Regions from separate parts of the Homo sapiens genome. Here region 1 is linked to region 2. A link means that fine-mapping ties the variant in region 2 to the expression of a gene that starts in the linked region. Tissue or cell type: lung. Region 2 holds a variant in brackets; the other region holds the start of a gene. Each region is shown on its reference strand, or each on the opposite one.

Evidence for each region. PIP is the estimated chance that this variant, and not a neighbour inherited with it, causes the effect.
Region 1: OAS2 starts here. The variant in region 2 is the best candidate, but not a certain one, in a credible set for the expression of OAS2 in lung (TOPMed, PIP 0.81).

What each region holds. Positions count from the first base shown.
Region 1 is chr12:112,976,399-112,981,785 of GRCh38, reverse strand. It overlaps OAS2 (2'-5'-oligoadenylate synthetase 2), which reads right to left and starts at 3,267. Exons shown (of 10, transcript NM_002535.3): 1 at 3,001-3,267. The coding sequence starts at 3,177. RefSeq lists enhancers at 2,103-2,252, 2,363-2,442, 2,613-2,692, 2,913-3,722.
Region 2 is chr9:21,410,655-21,416,041 of GRCh38, reverse strand. No RefSeq gene overlaps it. Among named protein-coding and RNA genes, the nearest start is that of IFNA8, 4.2 kb to the right of the region's middle. The variant G/C (reference allele first, on the strand shown) is at 2,238.

The DNA.
Region 1 (5,387 bases), not on the chromosome of region 2:
AATCAATGCAATCCTTATAAATACCAGTGACATTTTTTTTCACAGAAATAGAAAAAACAATCCTAAAATTTGTATGGAAACACAAAAGATCTCAAATAGCCAAATAGTACTGAGGAAAAAGAACAAAGCTAGAGGCATCATGCTACGTGACTTCAAAATATACTACAAAGCTATAGTAACCAAAGCAGCATGGGATTGGTATAAAAACAGACATATAGACCAAAGGAACAGAATCGAGAACCCAGAAACAAATCCACAAATTTACAGCCAACTGATTGAGAAAGCACCATGAACACACATTAGGGAAAGGATACTCTCTTCAATAAATGGTGTTGGGAAAACTGGATATCCATATGTAGAAGAATGAAACTAGGCCCCCGTCTGTCATCTTATAAAAAATTAACTAAAAATGGGTTAAAGAGTTAAACATAAGGCCTGAAATGATAAAATTAATAGAATAAAGCAGAAGAGTAATGCTTCATGATATTGGTCTATGCAAGTATTTTGTGGCTAAGACTTCAAAAGCACAGGCAACAAAAACAAAAAATAGACAATTGGGACTATATTAAATGAAAAAGCTTCTGCACATCAAAGGGAACAATCAAGAGTGAAAAGACAAGCTGTAGAATGGGAGAAAATATTTGGAAACTATTTTTCCAACAAGGGTTTAATATCCAGAATATACAAGGAACGTGAACAACTCAACAGCAAAGAAAACAACCCATCCCATTAAAAAGCAGCCAAAGGGCCTAAATAGACATTTCTCAAAAGAAGACATACAAAATGGCCAATGGGTATATGAAAAAATGCTTGACATCACTAATCACTAGGGAAATGCAAATCAAAACCACAATGAGATACCATCTCACCCCAGTTAGAATAGCTATTATCAAAAAGACAAAAAATAAACGCTAGCAAGGATTTGGAGTAAAGGGAATCTTACACACTGTTGGTGGGAATGTAAATTAGCACAGTCATTACGGAAAACAGTATGGAGGTTTCTAAAAAAAATAAAAATGGCACTGCCATTCAATCCAGCAATCCCACTACTAGGTATTTATCCAAAAAAGGGATAACTGCACCCTCATGTTTATTGCAGCACTATTCACAAAAGCCAAGATATGGAATCAACCAACGTATCCATCAGCAGCTGAATGGATAAAGACAATGTAGTATATATACACAATAGAATACTATTCAGACACAAAAAGAATGGAATTCTGTCATTTGCAGCAATGTGCATGGAACTAGAGGTCATTATGTTAAATGAAATAAGTCAGGCATAGAAAGACAATATTGCATGTGTTTATGTGGAAGTTAAAAAAAGTTGATCTCATGGAGGTAGAGAGTAGGATCATAGTTACCAGAGGCTGGGAAGTAGAGGAGGAAATGAAGAGAAGTTGGTTAATGGATACAAACATACAGTTAGATAGAAGGGATAAATTCTAGTGTTTGATAGCACAATGGGGTGACTATAGTTAACAATAATTTATTATATATTTCAAAATAGTTAGAAGAGAAGATCTGAACTGTTCTCAACACAAATAAATGATCAATGTTTGAGGTGATGGATATCCTAACTACCCTGATCATTTCACATTGTATCCATGTGTCCAAATATCACATGTACCCCATATAAATATGCACAATTATGTAAAAATAAAAAAACACAGTAGAATGGACAAATGTGGAATATTCACATAATGGAATTGACACAACAATGAAAAGATAAACAACTGTACCCCACAACATAAATTTCATAAACATCATAGGTCAGAGAAACCACGCACTAAAGCACACAGAGCCCATGATGCCATTTATGTAGGGTTCACCCATGCATCCTGGTTTACATTCCCAGCTTTCACACCAAGAGTCCCACATCCCAGGAAACACCCCAATCTTGGATGAACTGGGATAGTTGGTCACCCTATAATTGTAAAACGTTTAAAAACAGGCAAAACGTGTCTATGCTGTTAGAAGTCAGGAGATTGCCTACCTGGGTTTGGAGGTGCTGACTGGATCGGGGGCCCAGGGCTCTGGGGGGCTGAGAATGTTTTGTTTCTGGATCTGGGTGGGGGTTACACAGTTACATTGTTTGTGGCTACCTATCAAGCTGGACACTTTGATCTGGGCACTTTTTCTGTTTTACTTCCATGAGGAAAAAAAAATTGAGAGGCAGGATAGTGTAGTGGTTAAACATGCATGCCCTCAAGCCAATTACCCAGGCTTAAAATCCCAGTTCTGACAATAGCTATTAACCAAACTTGCCTTAGCTTGCTGGCCTGGGCCAGGGCTGGGGACACCACGTGTCTAGATTTCTTTATTGAGGCACTAGCGGATGTGTGCAAGGGGTAGAGACCAAAAAGTGTGGCAGCAGCAGAGAAGGGACGTCAGCAGCTCAGGAGGCTAAGAGGATAGTATTGGGCCATCAGGACCCCCACGCCCCCAATTCTAGGGTCCTGGCATCTCCCCAGTCCCCCTTCCTCCCCAGAGGTCCAGAATTTTCAGCCTCAGTCCTGAGATTTGTGTCCACAAAACCAAATATTTCTAACTGATAAAAGCCACTCCTTCTTGCTGCGGAGAAACCACAAGGCAACCTGGGTAGTTTGAACAAAGTTCTCTAGCCTCCCTAAGTTTACTCCTCTGTACTGTGGAGAGGATAGAAGAAAATCGCAGTGAGTAATCACAGTGAATTCACTGAGCACTGCCAGTCTTTTGCTAAGAACATGATGTGCTCAAGCCTTACGATACTCTGAAGTGGGTATTATGCCTCTCCCCATTTTACAGAGTCAGAGACTGAGGCACAGAGAGGTTAAGTAGCCTGCCCAGTGTCACACAGCTCTGGAGCAAGCGCCTGCTCCAGAGCCTGAGACTCCTACACCACATCCCACCCAAGTGTGGGCCTCGCACATAATAGGCACCCAGCACCCAGTAGCTCGGCCTTGCTGCCGCCGTGGAATCTCCTGCCTCCCAGAGACCCAACCTCAGCCCTGGACTCACTATGGCCACTCCCTGCACCAGGGGGAACTGTTCGGGTTCCTGCAGGACGTCACAGATGGTGTTCACCATCTCGTCGATCAGTGTCTGACATTCTTCGTAGGGCTTCAGGTATTCCTGGATAAACCAACCCAGCTTCTGAGCAGGCACCGAGGACAGCTGGGACTCCCCATTTCCCATTGCTCTCAGCTGGCTGCCGGCAAGACAGTGAATGGTAGGATGGGAGGCAGAGGAATTCTTGCTGCTGCCCAGAGCCAGGAAACTGAAACTGAAGTCTAGAGGCCTCTCTCCACCCACTGCAGCGAGCTTACCAACTCTTGTATCCGGGACAGGGAAACAAAACTAACTTAAGCTCAGAGGCTCTGCCCTGCCCCTTGCAGTGAGTTTACCAACTCCTGCATCCGGGGCAGGGAAACCAAAACTAACTTAAGCTCAAATGCTCTTCCCCGCCCCTTGCAGCAAGGTTTACTGACTCCTGCACCCCAGCAGGGAAACCAAAACTGACTCAAGCTCAGAGGCTTTCCCTGTCCCCGGCAGCGTGGTGACCAGCCCTTCAGGGGCTCCCCAAAACTTGAGGTTAACTAAACAGCCTCTAGAACCCCATTGTGAGGGCTTCATACCTGCTAGATGTCTGTCCTTGAGCACATCGCCTGCCCTCTTCGCGCCTCAATTCCCCCATCTGTAAGCTGGGGGAAAATGGCAGCTCTCTCGTAGGATTAGCTTGATGATTAAATAATACCTGCAAAGTGCTTAGAAGCAGGGGCGCACAGGTCATCTTTTGAGGCTCTGTCCCTTTCCCCCTGTTCTCAGTGGCCAGGGAACTCACATTCAGGGAAAGCGGCAGAGAGGAAAAAGAGACCCAGAGAGGGAACTGACTTGCTCAGGGACACACAGCAAAGCAGGGACCTAGCTGGACTCAGGTTTTGGTCTGCTTCTGGGTAAACACAGGCCCCCGTGTGGTCAGCGGGTGGGAACCTCTGTGTGTCCAGTTTCTCAGCACACTTGTGGACAGCCGAGGGACCGTATGAGGCACTTGTCCAGCCTCGCAAGGGCAAGAAAACACACCCCAAGTGTGTGAGCCAGAAAGGAGACAGACATGCAACTCCTGTGCCCAGAGCTTTGAAAACAAAACTCGCAGAGGACTCCCAGCCAGCTGCCTTGGCCCAGCAATAATAATTCACAGAGAAGGCAAAAATCTCCAAGATGTAGTGGGGGACCAGGGCCCTTCCATACTGGGATGGTTAATTTTATGTGTCAAGTTGGCTGAGCCCAGGTACCCAGATATTTGGTCAAACATTATCCTAGATCTTTTTGTGAAGGTATTTTTTAAAGATAAGATTAACATTTACATTGGTAGACTTTTTTTTTGAGTAAAGTGGATTATCATCTGTAAGGTGGTGGGCCTGATTCAATCAGTTGAAGGCCTTAATAGACTAAAGACTGAGCTCCCCCAAGGAAGAGGGAATTCGGCTGCAGTGCCTTGGCCTCCACTTGCAGCAGCAACTCCTTCCTGGGTCTCCCACCTGCCAGTCTACCCTGCCGATTTTGGATTTGCCAGCCTCCACAATCACATGAGCCAATTCCTTAAAATAAATACCTCAAAATAAATATAAATACCCTGTTAGTTCTGGAAAAACCTCGATTAATGCACATGCTCATTAAGGGCCTTTCCTGCCCTTATCCAACTTTTACTGCAACACCGAGAGGTAGGCAGGCTGGGCAGGCGTAGTCCTAAGGTTCCTTTTTCAGATGAGAACATGGAGGCTCACAAAGGTGGAAACATTTGCCCGTGATCACACAGCTAGGAAGTTGTCAGGCTAGGTTCTCACACTAACACACTGCCTGACTCCAAAGCCTGTGCTTTATTTGTTATTTAAAAAAACACTTTATTTTGAAGTAATTTGAAATGCTGAGAAAATTTACAAGATGCACACAAAGAACTTCCTTAGACTTTTTAGCCATTATATTTTTTACCACATTTGCCCCTCATTTTCTTGCTATTTATACATTTTAGGAGGTTTTTGTTTTGTTTTGTTTTTGAGACAGAGTCTCACTCTGTCACCCAGGCTGGAGTGCAGTGGCGTGATTATAGCTCACTGTAGCCTCACCCTCCCAAGCTCAAGCAATCTTCCTACTTCAGCCTCCTGAGTAGCTGGGACTATAGGCATGCACCACCATGCCTGGCTAAATTTTTAAAATTTTTTGGTAGAAATGGGGGTCATGATGTCACCATGTTGCCCAGGCTGGGCTCGAACTCCTGGCCTCAAGCGATCTTCCCACCTCAGCCACCCAAAGTGCTGGGATTACAGACCTGAGCCACCACGCCCAGCCCTTCATGAGTATTTTTATTCCTGAACCATTTGAATGCATGTTGCATGATTTATGTCCCT
Region 2 (5,387 bases):
CCCTGTCAAGGTGTCTTGGCCATCTGGGGAGTTGGGATGGTGCCCTAGTGCCATCAGTACAGGATGTAGCTTGCTTCACATGAAATCACCGCAAGCGGAGCTCATTATAACTCCTTTAACAGGCACAATTGGAGTTTCCTTTTATACAACAAGAGATGAATTGTTTGTAGTTGTCTGATTCTCTAAAGATTTCATCATCACTAGCTTCATAATTGGCTGTCACAGGGTGCTATATAATACATTAATGGCTGATAGTTCTAATTTGTTACTTATTTAAATTTGATTTTTTGTTGTTGTTGTTTTATGGACTCTAATCTTCAGGAAGAGTTCCAAATTCTAAATATGCTGACTCACCGCAGAATGTACTAACTGGAAAGAAAACAAAGGGAATCAAACTGCCAATGTTTTATTTTTCAACTATTTTCATTCAATGAATATTGACAAAGGTCTTTGCTATCATTAGTTATTATGATCTTCAAATATGCACATTACTAATATCTGTCCTGCTTGGAAGGCTCTGCCCTACTTGCCTCTAATTATACTCAAATACCTGATATGTCCCTTCTGTTCAGGTATTGCTTCATTTTGTTTTAGTTTTAAAGGAGGCTGCATTATAACCAAAATTTAAGAGATGTCTTAGATTGCACTGGCCTCATGGAATAATTTTCCCTGTGGAGTGATGACTTGCTAGGTCCTTAAGAGGAAACAGCAGTTGGCAGCTGGCACTAGAATAAGGCTTGTCCCTTCCAAAACTCTGCAGGCTACTGTGGTCTATCAGTGTCTCCCATGCTGGAGTCACTGAGGTTGGCCATGTCTCTGTGAGACGACTCTGTGCTTCAGTCTTCATCCACTTTCAATCTTCTCTCCCTCTCTATGATCAGAGGATCTGAACAGTTAACTCCATCTGCTCATTCACGTAGTTCCATCTCTTGAGGACCTGCCACTGTTGCAGTCAATGTTTTAAACATCTCTATTCTCCTTCCAAGATATCAGACTGCTCCTCTTTTTTTCAACTTCTTTGTGTTGTGATGTATTCTGTTTTTTTTTGTTTTGTTTTGTTTGTTTGTTTTTAAACAAATGAGAGTCCTATGTCTGGTGCAGTCTCCTCTTAGGGGAATCAGAACATGGAAACTTCTAAACATAAGAACAGATGAGCTCCTGCATTCTTTACCAGTTCTTTGGGTCATAAGTATGGGGGAAGGCCTCCTTCCATTTACTGCATTTTGTGGCCTGACTGGACATCAGTGGGTCTGGACCCCCCACAGCTCATGAATCACCTGGCAGGAGGGGTCAAAACAAGGTCATATTCACACTCTTGCTTCCAAGGCTCTAAAAACTTAGCTGTCTCCAGCTAGTGCTGCATGGTTAGCCCTTGCCAAGTCTCCATGGGAACTGGAGTGCTTCTCCATGCTCCCTGTGGCCCTTCTCAGGTAAACTAGATGCACCTCAGCTGGGTTGGGAGTGTAGGGGGAAGTAATGTTTGGCACTACAGAGGGACCTGAATGGGTGGGGCATCTCAGCACTCACTGCCCTCCAACTTCACTCTCTGTCCTGGTCCTCCAGACCCACTGCTTGATTCCTGACTACTGTAGAACACATAACTGGTTAATAACTCCAGGATATGATGCAAGATATGGCTATAGAGATTTCCAGGGCAAGGTGACAGTTTGGAGCCAAGTCATAAAACTTTTACAACAACCTGAATATAATTTTTTTAAAGCATTGAAAAAAATGAAAGAGGTTATAACATTTGAAAGACATTATGGAGGGTAGAGCAAGGTGGCTGAATGGAGGGCACCATCGATGGTCCCACCCTCTCGGTAGGAACATCAAGTTTGACAACTGTCTATGCAAAGGGAGCATCTTCATAGGAACCAAAAATCTTGTGAACACTCACAGTGTCTGATTTTAACTCTATATCACTAAAAGAGGCACTGGAGAGGGTAGGAAAGACAGTCTTGAATTGCCATCCCCACCCTGCCTCCATCCCTAGCAGCAGCCACATGGCATGGAGAATCTGTGCACTTGGGAGAGGGAGAGTACAGTACGTGTGAGACTTTGCCTTAAATTCATGGCTGCCCTCTGACAGCAGAAAGCAGCACAGGGCTGTACTCAGCTGTGCCTGCCCATAGAGGGAGCATTTGAACCAGCCCTAGCCAGAGGGAAATGTCCTATCCCAGTGATGGGAGATTGAGTTCCAGCAAACCTCCCCACCATGGACTAAAGGGCTCTGGGAC[G/C]CTAAATAAACTTGAAAGGCAGCCTAGGCCACAAGGACTGTAATTTCTAAGCAACTCCTAGTGCTGAGCTGGGTTCAGAGGCAGCGAACAGGAAGGGGGCGTGTGACCTACTGAGACACCAGCAACAAAGGTTAAAGGAGTACTTGCAACACTTCTCCCGTAACCCCAGGAAGCACAGTTCAGAACTCCAAATGAGACCCTTCCTTCTGCTTAAAGAAAGGAGAGGGAAGATGTATTACTTTGTTTTCATGCTGCTAATAAAGACATACCTGAAACTAGGAACAAAAGGTTTAATTGGACTTACAGTTAGTTCCACATGGCTGGGGAGGCCTCAGAATCACGGCAGGAGGTGAAAGGCACTTCTTGCATGGTGCTGGCAAGAGAAAAATGAGGAATTAGCAAAAGGAGAAACCCTTGATAAACCCATCAGATCTCATGAGACTTATTCACTATCACGAGAACACCATGGGAAAGACCGACCCCCATGATTCAATTACCTCCCCGTTGGTCACTCCTAAATTTCTCCATCCTCCCCTCTAGAGGACAGAAGAAGACTGCAAACAATACAATTTTTTGTAATTTGTCTAAGGCCCTGGTCAACTCCCAGTCTGAAAGCAGCAAATCCAGATGTTGAGTGTGTAGCTGGAGGAAAAGACTCAAGAGGCCCCTGTGCAGTTGTAGGCTCTCCCTCCCTGCTACCTCAGCAATTCACACACACTTCCTAGTGAAATAACTCCAGAATATATGGTGTCAATTATAGGAATGCCTCTCAATCTCTACCAAAATTGATACATTTGAATAAATAGACCTCGCCAGCTCTCAGGGAACAGTAATGCTATTCTTTCACATTCCTTAGCTTCTATGGGAATTCTTCCTTTTTCTAACTGGGCAGGGGTTTTACTGTTGAGTGGAAGAACTGGAAAGATCATTATTCAAAATGACAGTGAGAAAATGTTTTAATTTGTTAATGTTTGAACTCTGATATTAGGATTAAATCTGTGAAATTAAGATTGTACTGCTGGTTTAATGCACCATTAAACATGAGGTTTCTGTGAATAGTATTAAGTTCCAATACAAAACGGCAGCCCTACCTGTGCCCTGGAGTCCCAATGTATGAGGATGGGGTGATCCTGGGGAGTAGACTGTTCTGCACAGTAGGGTGGGCAGATATTACATCTCTGTGTCCCTATCACTGCGAATCCCAAGGAGTCCATGCCTTGACTGTACCTGGAAACTCATTCTCTTTGTAATAGACCAGGGATAAGGAACAAACTTGGACAACATTAGCGTCTCTTCTCGCCAATAAGTAGCTTTTTTGCAGCACAAAGAGAAATCTCCAGAACTGGTAGGATTTCTCCATAGATCAGAAACCTGCCCTCCAGTCTTGGTTGCTGCTCTTGTTACACTTGGTCCCAGGGGACTGTCTTTTTTATTTAACTTCTGCTTTCTACTTTTACTTTTCTGCTATTTAGGGAAACCATGAAGCCAGAACCACAACAGAACAGAAAGCAGCTCTGTGTGAATGGGCAGAAGGATAAAGGGAGTGAATGATCAAGGAAACCCTGGTGATATGAGACTGCATCCTGGAATGCTGAGAGCCAGGGAAGGAATGTACCAGGTGCCAGAATCAGTCAATAAACATCATGTGTCTTCTGCAGTTCAAACTAGATGCTTCTTCTCCTATCTCAGGAAAAGGAGCAGCCACCATTCCCTGACTGCATATAAATAGGACACATCTTTGAAATGAGGATTGACAATTTTTCAGCCTCTCTAGAATTCTCATTTTCTTAATCTCCTTCCATTGGAGGTCCGTTACTAAAATATAGGACATAGTTCCTAAGAATTTTATAAAAAGACAAATAATATTACCATCTACAGCTGTATGAAGAAAAATAGGAAAATACCTACCATAGTTTAACTCCTTATTCGATAAAAGATATTATCGTAGGTGCTTTAAAATGCATGTGTTCCTTTAATACTCACAACTATATAAATATTTTGAAACCATTTTATTTATGAGAAAACTAAGGCTCTATGAGAAAACTAAGGCTCAAAGAGATTAAGCAGAATGATCAACAATACACCTACCTCCCAGCAGAATGAAATTTCAGTATCAAATTCTTTAATGTAATTGATGGGTGATTTTGTCAGTTTTGTATTCCAGATTTCTGTCATAATTGCTAAATCTCCTTTTATTCATGAATTATACATAACTCTTCCTTGCTCTCTGAATATGCGTGGTTCATGTATTTTCACTTGATGTTGACCAGTTTTTTTCTTTACCTTACGTATTGAGAAAGAAAGTCTCTGATTGTTTCCCACTTTTATTTTGTGAAGGATGTTTGTCAGTCTTTATGTCCATAGTAATTCGGTTCTTTCTGGATTGATCTAAGACTACAATATTCATGAAATCAGGAAGAATTACCAAAGTGTAACATAAAAGAATTCTTATATCTAGCACTACAAGAAATTAAGATGGATTGTAAAGGTGCAGAAGAACTGTAGTAAACCAGTGTGACAATGATGCAAGTTAACAACAAATAAGGCCAATACTTCCAGGTGTCATTATATTATCATCATTAATTATTTCGGTGAAGGATCGAATTAGTTATCTCTTACTCCCTAACAGATGAACAGAAACTAGGTAGCTTACTGATAGCCAAAGTAGTATTAATTAAAACAATAATAAATTATAATTGTAAATAATATATCATGATTTAAAATAATATATTAAGTATATTAATATGATTTGCTAGTACATCAGTTACATGAAATCTATCCAGAAAAATATTAATAAAGGAAATACTATGCACAGAAAAAGTAACTCACATTCTTTCCCCCATCACATCCTATTTTTTTGCCCTCTTCAGAGTCACTAACTTCTCTTATTTATACTTCCAGCCACTACAGTATGGTTTGTTCTGATTTATTTTACCATAATAACTCTCATAAGGTTGCCAGTGCCATCTATTTTCCCGAGGTAGTGGACAGTTTCAATGTATATCTTCTGTAAATCTACTGATAACTCTTTTAAGAATATTAATTTTCTTAAACTTTTTTTCCTAGTATTTTCTCCTGTTGTCCTTCTAATGTGTGGCCTTTCCATCTGTTTCTTTGTGGCTCTTCTCTTTCCTTTCTTAAGTGTGGAAG